Linked DNA regions of Homo sapiens: region 1 is linked to region 2. Evidence: fine-mapped expression QTL. A gene starts in region 2. The other region holds a variant in brackets. All regions are shown on one strand. Distances are between the middles of the regions.

Region 1 (4,398 bases), 75 kb before region 2:
AAGTCAAGAGATTCTCCCTGCCTCAGCCTCCATAGTAGCTGGGATTACAGGTGCCCGCCACCACGCCCAGCTAATTTTTGTATTTTTAATAAGAGACAAGGTTTCACCATGTTGGCCAGGCTGGTCTTGAACTGCTGATCTCAGGTGATCTGCCCGCCTTGGCCTCCCAAAGTGCTAGGATTACAGGCATGAGCCACCACACCCAGACAACTTTTCATTTCTTTCAAGTGTTTGCCCAAATGTCCTTAATTGATGAAGTTCTCTTGATCACATTTATATAAATTAGCCATTCCTTACTTCCCTGGTATCCTCTGCACCCCTTACTTTGCTTTCATTTCACTCTGTATCACCTTGGACATAGTATATAATTCATTTTTTAAATTAGATTCCCCTGTCTAAAATAAGGACGAGTTTGATTTTGATTTGTTCACCGCTGTATTTCCAGTGCCTGGAATAGTGTCTGGAACATTATTAAGCTCTTAACAAATGTTTGTTAAATGGTTGTCTATTTTTCAGGCAGCAACAGGAGGCTAGTGGATGGAGAGGGGATGACAACCAGTAGGAGAAAATGGAAAAACCAGAAGATGGACTTTAACAAAGGGCATTATGTCTTAAGGAGGAAAGACAATTAGAAATAGAACTGAGGGGCCGGGCGCAGTGGCTCATGCCTGTAATCCCAGCACTTTGGGAGGCCGAAGTGGGCGGATCACGAGGTCAGGAGATTGAGACCACCCTGGCCAACATGGTGAAACCCCGTCTCCACTAAAAATACAAAAATTAACTGGGCGTGGTGGCATGGGCCTGTAGTCCCAGCTATTTGGCAGGCTGAGGCAGGAGAATCACTTGAACCCAGGAGGCGGAGGTTGCAGTAGTGGAGATCGCACCATTGCACTCCAGCCTGGGTGACAGAGCGAGACTCCATCTCAGAAAAAAAAAAACAGAAATAGAACTGAGGAAGGTAGAGAACAGAGAAACTGATGTGAGTGAAACACACCTGCCTTACAAGATTAAAGGTGTTTGGCCCATTGCTGGGGCCACATGAGAACAAATTAAGAGTCCCAAAAGGGTTTAATGTGTTCATGAGTCAAGGTCAAGATTTGGGGCTTTATTTATTTCATCTCCTGCCACTACCCTCTGACTGAGATGAGAGTTTCCCAAACAAGTGAGACATATGAGACAGACAATGTAGCCGGAGGGTTAGGTGGCAGTGATTGGCAATCTCCACCTGGAGTCTCAGCTCCAAGATAAGCCCTAAGGTTCCCTCTGGAACATCAGTCTGTACTTTTCTATATTTAGAGGAAGTCTCAAGTGTAGGACGATTGCTGCAGTCTGGAGTCTTCACTGGTACAGCAAGATGATGGATTGTTTTTCAGTACTTGTTTCCTCCTATGTAATGATTATTTTTTTCTTTGTAGCTTCACATTACTGGTTTGCTGCGTTGCTGTTCCCCAGACCAAGCAGAAGCATCTGTAACGTCTGAAGGAAGAACCCAGGCCCGCAGCTCACCCACTACAGAACCTAGGGACCTTATCCTTCTTCCAGGTAGGGAAGTCTTCAGCTGTTTTTTTCTAATTATCAATCCTGGACCAAGATTGTTTCATGTAGAATTGAAGGGTACTAAAGGATGAAAGACAGGAAGGATGAGGGAGAGGCAAACGTGGTGGGGGAAGAAGAGGCAAAAGAAAAGGGCACTAGGCAGAGCAGGGCATTTCTTTCTTTCTTTCTTTCTTTCTTTCTTTCTTTCTTTCTTTCTTTCTTTCTTTCTCTCTCTCCTTTTTTCTTTCTTTCTTTCTCTTTTTTTTTTTTTTGAGTTGGAGTCTTGCACTGTTGCCTGGGTTGGAGTGCAGTGGCACGATCTTGGCTCACTGCAACCCCCACCTCCCTGGTTCAAGCGATTCTCCTGCCTCAGCCTCCTGAGTAGCTGGGATTACAGGTGGGTGCTGCCATGCCCGGCTAATTTTTGGCATTTTTAGTAGAGATGGGGTTTCACTATGTTGGCCAGGCTGCATTTTTAGTAGAGATAGGGTTTCACTATGTTGGCCAGGCTGCTCTCGAACTCCTGACTTCGTGAT[A/C]TGCCCACCTCAGCTTCCCAAAGTGCTGGGATTACAGGCATGAGCCTCCATGCCCGGCCAGGGAATTTATTTCAACATCTTCTGTTCCTCCCTTTCTCTCCCAGCACCAACCTCCCTTTCTCTCCCAGCACCAACTAATGCTGAGAAAAGCCACTTTCACTGATGGTGACATTTGAGTCATTTGGACTTCACAACCTCTTTACTTTGATCTCCATCTTCTGGCGAGAGTGGTAATAAACAGTGAAAAGATGGTCTACAATAAACATACGTGTGCACTATTCACAATAGCAAAGACTTGGAACCAACCCAAATGTCCACCAGTGATAGACTGGATTAAGAAAATGTGGCGGCCGGGCGCGGTGGCTCACGCCTGTAATCCCAGCACTTTGGGAGGCCGAGGCGGGCGGATCACGAGGTCAGGAGATCGAGACCATCCCGGCTAAAACGGTGAAACCCCGTCTCTACTAAAAATACAAAAAATTAGCCGGGCGTAGTGGCAGGTGCCTGTAGTCCCAGCTACTTGGGAGGCTGAGGCAGGAGAATGGCGTGAACCCGGGAGGCGGAGCTTGCAGTGAGCCGAGATCCCGCCACTGCACTCCAGCCTGGGCGACAGAGCGAGACTCCGTCTCAAAAAAAAAAAAAAAAAAAGAAAATGTGGCACATATACACCATGGAATACTATGCAGCCATAAAAGAGGATGAGTTCATGTCCTTTGTAGGGACATGGATGAAGCTGGAAACCATCATTCTCAGCAAATTATCGCGAGGACAAAAAACCAAACACCACATGTTCTCACTCATAGGTGGGAATGGAACAATGAGAACACTTGGACACAGGAAGGGGAACAGCACACACTGGGGCCTGTCGTGGGGTGGGGGAAGGGGGGAGGGATAGCATTAGGAGATATACCTAATGCAAATGAAGAGTTAATGGGTGCAGCACACCAATATGGCACATGTATACATATGTAAGAAACCTGCACATTGTGTACACGTACCCTAGAACTTAAAGTATATATATATAAAAAAAAGATGGTTAGCAAAACCAAGGAAAATTTAAGGACCTTGATAATCCAGAAACTGTATGATTATAGATAATCGAGAATTGTCTCTATATTCAAAAACACTGTTTTTACTCCTGATCCTGAAATAATGGAAATCACAAACAAGATATATAAACTCAGATTGTTTTACACCATCACTTGTCACTATTTTACATGGTGTCACAAACTAACTGCATTCATTATTAATTTGCATTAAGAGCTGCATTAGTCTTTCAAATGCCAACAGCTTTTCCTCTGAACATTTTCTTTTCTGCTTATGAATTACTGTTCTGGTTTTTACAGTCTGGGCAGGTTTCCATTAAATCCTTTTTGTTTCATGGGTTCTTGTGTGATGTAATACTAAGTCATTTGCTAAATTACTATGTTCTATTATAATATGGTATTGTATATTTTAATATATCTTTTTATAGATTTTTATATTGTATTTATTCCTTTGAAGAGGAATAGACAGAGAGAGATGTATTGTTTTATTTTTTTTTTTTTTCATTGTGCTGGAGCTGTGTTATAATATAGACAGTACTGGTAGGAGTTAGGCAAAAAAAAAAAAAAAAATTGGTGTGCCATAGAAAAGGATAGATTAGTATTCTGCCTATCGCACATCCCAATCCTCATGAGGAATAGCAACACAATTTTTAAAAATCCTTTAATGTTATATGGCTGAGCAAAGGCAAGGAAAACCTCTTCTTTCCCCTCCCCGCCAAAACCTTGCTCTTCTCTTAATAAAGCTTTCAGCCATCTCTCCAAGTGGCAGCAGGACAATTCCAAAGCCTGACCTTCAGTTCTTAGCAGAGGATGTTAACAGACCTACCCTCAGTTTCCTGGCCCACCAGGACCCCAGCAAACTTTCTGTTGCCTACCAGGCTGGACTGTAGCCACACTCTAACAAGATCTGAGTCTTGACCTTATGGGATGAGTATCTTCTTCCAAACTCTTAGTTTCCTCCTTAGATATCTTCTCCCTTAACCCTATGGATGGTAGCTGTTTCCTGTATTTGCCATTCCTGTATTTTGTGAAATCCCCTTTTATACCTTTTAGTTAACCATCTTTCACTTCTTAATAATTCCATTTTTGAAAGTTTTTCCTGCTCCAATTACTGTTGTGGTTTTTGACTCATAACTAGACTCTCCCTAACATTTCTCAATCTCCTTACCCTGGAGGAATGCTTATAATAATCTTCAAGTCTCAAGGAAACCCTACATAAAAATTATTAAATCTATGGCTTACATTATCAGTAAATTGTAGATGATGGTCAATGTTGTTTA
Region 2 (4,398 bases):
AGGAATACCCTTTTACTTGTTTATTTTCAATGTGTAAAACAATTATGGCCGGGCGCTGTGGCTCACGCCTGTAATCCCAGCACTTTGGGAGGCCGAGGTGGGTGGATCACGAGGTCAGGAGATTGGGACCATCCTGACTAACATGGTGAAACCCCGTCTCTACTAAAAATACAAAAAATTAGCTGGGCGTGGTGGCAGGGGCCTGTAGTCCCAGCTATTCGGGAGGCTGAGGCAAGAGAATGGCATGAACCCAGGAGGCAGAGCTTGCAGTGAGCCGAGATCGCACCACTGCACTCCAGCCTGAGCGACAGAGTGAGACTCTGTCTCAAAACAAAACAAAACAAAACAAAAAAACAATTACATGATTCTACATTCAAAACTCCACAGCAGGCTGGGCGCAGTGGGTCACATCTGTAATCCCAGCACTTTGGGAGGCCGAGGCAGGCAGATCACTTGAAGTGAGGAGTTTGAGACCAGCCTGGGCCACATGGTGAAACCCTGTCTCTACTAAAAATACAAAAATTAGCTAGTCATGGTGGCACGTGCCTGTAGTCCCAGCTACTTGGGAGGCTGATGTGGGAGAATTGCTTGAACCAGGGAGGCAGAGGTTGCAGTAAGCCGAGATCACACCACTGCACTCCAGACTGGGTAACAGAGTGAGATTCTGTCTCAAAACAAAACAAAACAAAAAACCAACAACTCTACAGCAAGTTTTACTGAGAGAAGTCTCACCTCTATGCATGTTTCCGCTCTCCTCTTAGAGGCAGAAGTTTTTAGTTTTAATTAGTTTTAGTTTTGTTCTTCCAGTGGGTGTTTCGTTTGTTTTTTAAATATGAGCAAATATTATAAATGTATATATTTATTTATATCCCCCATACTCTATATACTATTGTGCATCTTGCTGCTTTCACCTAAAAATACATCCTGAAGATTATTGCATATCAGCATATAGAGATCTTCCTCAATCCCATTTTATTATTCTATAGTAATATTCCATTGTATACATGAATCACAGTTTATTCACCTGTCCCTCTATTCACAAGTCTTTGAGTTGTTTGTAATCTTTTTCTATTAAAAAATACTACCTTATTCACAAGTCATTTTCTAATTCTGCCTGTGTAGTTTTGTGACAGATTTCTAGAACTGAGATTGTTCTATCAGATGGTGAAGGCATACATAAATTTGCAAGATATTGCCAAACCATCTTTTACTATAGTTGTAACTATTTTTTATTCCAACTAATGATATACAAGATATTCTATTTTCTTTCACCATGACCAACCCAATAAGCTTTCAAACTTTTGATTTTCACCCATATGATAGGTGAGAGTTGTTATCTCAGCATGCAGGTAATTTGCATTTCTTTTATTGTGAGGGTTGGATTTTGAAACAGCAAAAAGGGCAAGGAAGCCCCTGTGATGACCAAGAGCCTGAGCATGCTTTCAGTTATTTCCTCTCTTATGTCAAAAAGCATCTTTACACCACGATTGTGAATTTATTCACAAGAAATACCAAATTTCTTCTTTCATTATTAACAACTCTGTCTTCAACTGCCATAGTTTCCAGAGAATTGAATAATGAATTGTCCAAAACCACAGAAGAAAAGTTGCTATTTGAGAGCATATCTGTCTGATAACGAGTTCCCTGATCAGTGAAACTGCACTATGCCAAATGCAGAGTGGGAATTCCAAGGAAGAACAAAGATCTGTTACAAGGAAGTTCCATAGAAGATACACCCAACTGTGAGTAAACAGCTGGTAAGCAAAGTAGCAAGGTGAAATAAACATCTAGGTTAAGAAGAAGTTAAGATCTCCAGGTACTACGGAGATGAAGAAAACAAAAAAAAGAAGAAGTTAAGAGAAGTAAAGATGAATCGTTAGCACATAGTTCTATTTTCATAGATAACATTTTTGAGATATATATAGTGATTTTCTGTAGATATATGAGTATACCCAGATATCCCTCCCACCTACACCAGCCCTTTCTCCAAAAGGAACAATGCTTGAGGGTGTTCAAATGGCCTTTTTTCACCAGTGGCTGGGAGCCTTAGCCATGGAATGGGCTGTCCTCATCCACAGTGTCCCACTGTTTTTTATTGCCATTAATGTCTTCCATTTTTAGTGTCATTTGATCCACGGAAATCCCACCCTTTCAATTTTCCCATTGTATCTGAGCATATCAATTCTCTCAGCATCCAAATGGTTTTTGAGCACCCAGTCTAAGCTAAGCATAGCCCAATCCTAGGCAACTTCAGCAGAAAATGGGTACCATTACAGCAAAAGCAGCGGTGTGCTTCCTGGAAAGGATACCAGTAGCCAAAGAAGTTGATGATAGTCCATGGTAATATACAAGGCTGCAACACAGTTCCAGGAAGCTTGACTTCAGCATTGCCTCCCTAGCCATGAGCATCACTGATTCCATTGTGTGTTTAAATGTGCTTTACCTACTTCTGTGAGTCACATGTGGGCCATTTAGAGGGTGAAAAGTGTTGGTCATTTTATCACCCCGCCCTCCTCATTTCCTGAATCTTGTGAAGCTGGCTGAGTCCCACAGACCGCTAGAGGAAGAGGTAGCTCCACAGGAGGTACAGCTGCTTACACATCTCTCCTCAGAGCTGTCCCTTGACTTGGGGGTGAATTTCAGGCCAACAGGGCTTCCTGGGATACAAGAGCGTTCTCCATGGATCTGCCTTACTACCATGGACGTCTGACCAAGCAAGACTGTGAGACCTTGCTGCTCAAGGAAGGGGTGGATGGCAACTTTCTTTTAAGAGACAGCGAGTCGATACCAGGAGTCCTGTGCCTCTGTGTCTCGTGAGTAGCCTCATCTTGCACACATCTGACATCGTATGTTGAATGTGGCAATGGCTGCCACACAGTACAGGAATTCATATCCCTCAGTATTTCACTCTGACTTTGGAGTCTCAATGAGTAGAATGAGAAGTAATGGACACTGCCAGGAGAGGAATGTATCTGTCCATGCTCCTCCATCTGCCTGCTCTCCCTGGTGTAAAGGCCCTGCAAGCAGACTCTGCAGCAGCAGGAGGGACATGGTGGTGGTGAAGGGAAGGGCTGCAGGAAGTACAGGGGTACAGAGGGATGGAAAGAAGGTACAAATGTCAGAGGTCCTGTCCTCCAGAGATCTGTTTATTTGGTATGGAAAAGGCTAGGGGTTCTTCAAGAAATTTCAATCTGAAACACTTATTCTGCAGCATCTGCTTGCAATACGTAAACTATAAATACAATCATATTTCACATTTTGTTAGATTTGTGAAGGACTTCAATATTCGTCATTTCCTTTCATCCTAGTAGTCTATCAAGGCAAGCATAAGCAGTCACCATTTCATAGGTAAAGAAACAGAGACCTGAATTTCTCAAATAATTTGTTTGTGTTAAAACTCATTTGGAATTTCCAGAGTCTAAGTTAAACATGAAATTCCAGGCTGGGCATGGTGGCTCATGCCTGTAATCCCAACACTTTGGGAGGCTGAGGCAGGTGAATCACTTGAGGTCAGGAGTTTGAGACCAGCCTGGCCAACACGGCAAAACCCCATCTCTACCAAAAATACAAAAATTAACCTGGTGTGGTGGCGTGTGCCTGTAATACTGGCTACTTGAGAGGCTGAGACAGGAGAATCACTTGAACCCAGGAGGCAGAGGCTGCAGTGAGCTGAGATTGCACCACTGCACTCCAGCCTGGGCAATAGAGTGAGACTCTGTCCAAAAAAAAGAAAAAAGAGTGGCTGGGCACAGTGGCTCACTCCTGTAATCCCAGCACTTTGGGAAGCGGAGGCAGGTGAATCACCTGAGGTCGGGAGTTCGAGACCAGCCTGACCAACACGAAGAAACCCCGTCTCTACTAAAAATACAAAATTAGCCAGGTGTGGTGGCGTATGCTTGTAATCCCAGCTATTTGGGAGGCTGAGGCAGGAGAATCACTTGAACCCGGGTGGTGGAGGTTGCAGTGAGCTGAGATTGTGCCATTGCACTCCAGCCTGGGCAACAAGAGCAAAACTCCATCTCAAAAAAAAAAAAAAAAAGAAAAAGAAAAACAAATTCCAGGCCACAGTATCAAAGAGACCTAGCTGAAGGAACTTGTTTATGCCCAGTTTAGAAAGCAATCCTGAACAGAAATCACTAGAAACCTCCTATCTTTATGTATGTTCCTCTTTGTAAAGTAGGGACCACTGAACCTTTTATTATACCTGTAACAGAAATTAAAATCCAAATGTCTCTTGTTAAAGAAAAAAATTACTCAATGTCACTTGTTAAATTATGGTTGGGAAGACTTTATTCAGGATCATCACAAAGGTACAGGGACCACTGCAATGAGCTCTTGCGGCACAGAAAAGAGACTGGACTCAACTCTGAATCCAGCATGGACAAGTGGGAATTTATG

Which allele goes with the higher level. Positions count from the first base shown, and alleles are read on the strand shown. Sizes are in standard deviations (SD) of each study's normalised expression.
In carriers of allele C in region 1, the expression in skeletal muscle of the gene that starts at base 2,560 in region 2 tends to be higher than with A alone (small effect, 0.40 SD a copy in GTEx).

What was found. PIP is the estimated chance that this variant, and not a neighbour inherited with it, causes the effect.
Region 1: its variant is the best candidate, but not a certain one, in a credible set for the expression of SH2D1B in skeletal muscle (GTEx, PIP 0.79).

The regions. Positions count from the first base shown.
Region 1 is chr1:162,485,289-162,489,686 of GRCh38, reverse strand. No RefSeq gene overlaps it. Among named protein-coding and RNA genes, the nearest start is that of UHMK1, 10 kb to the left of the region's middle. The variant A/C (reference allele first, on the strand shown) is at 2,073.
Region 2 is chr1:162,410,298-162,414,695 of GRCh38, reverse strand. SH2D1B (SH2 domain containing 1B) reads left to right here and starts at 2,560. Exons shown (of 4, transcript NM_053282.5): 1 at 2,560-2,813. The coding sequence starts at 2,680.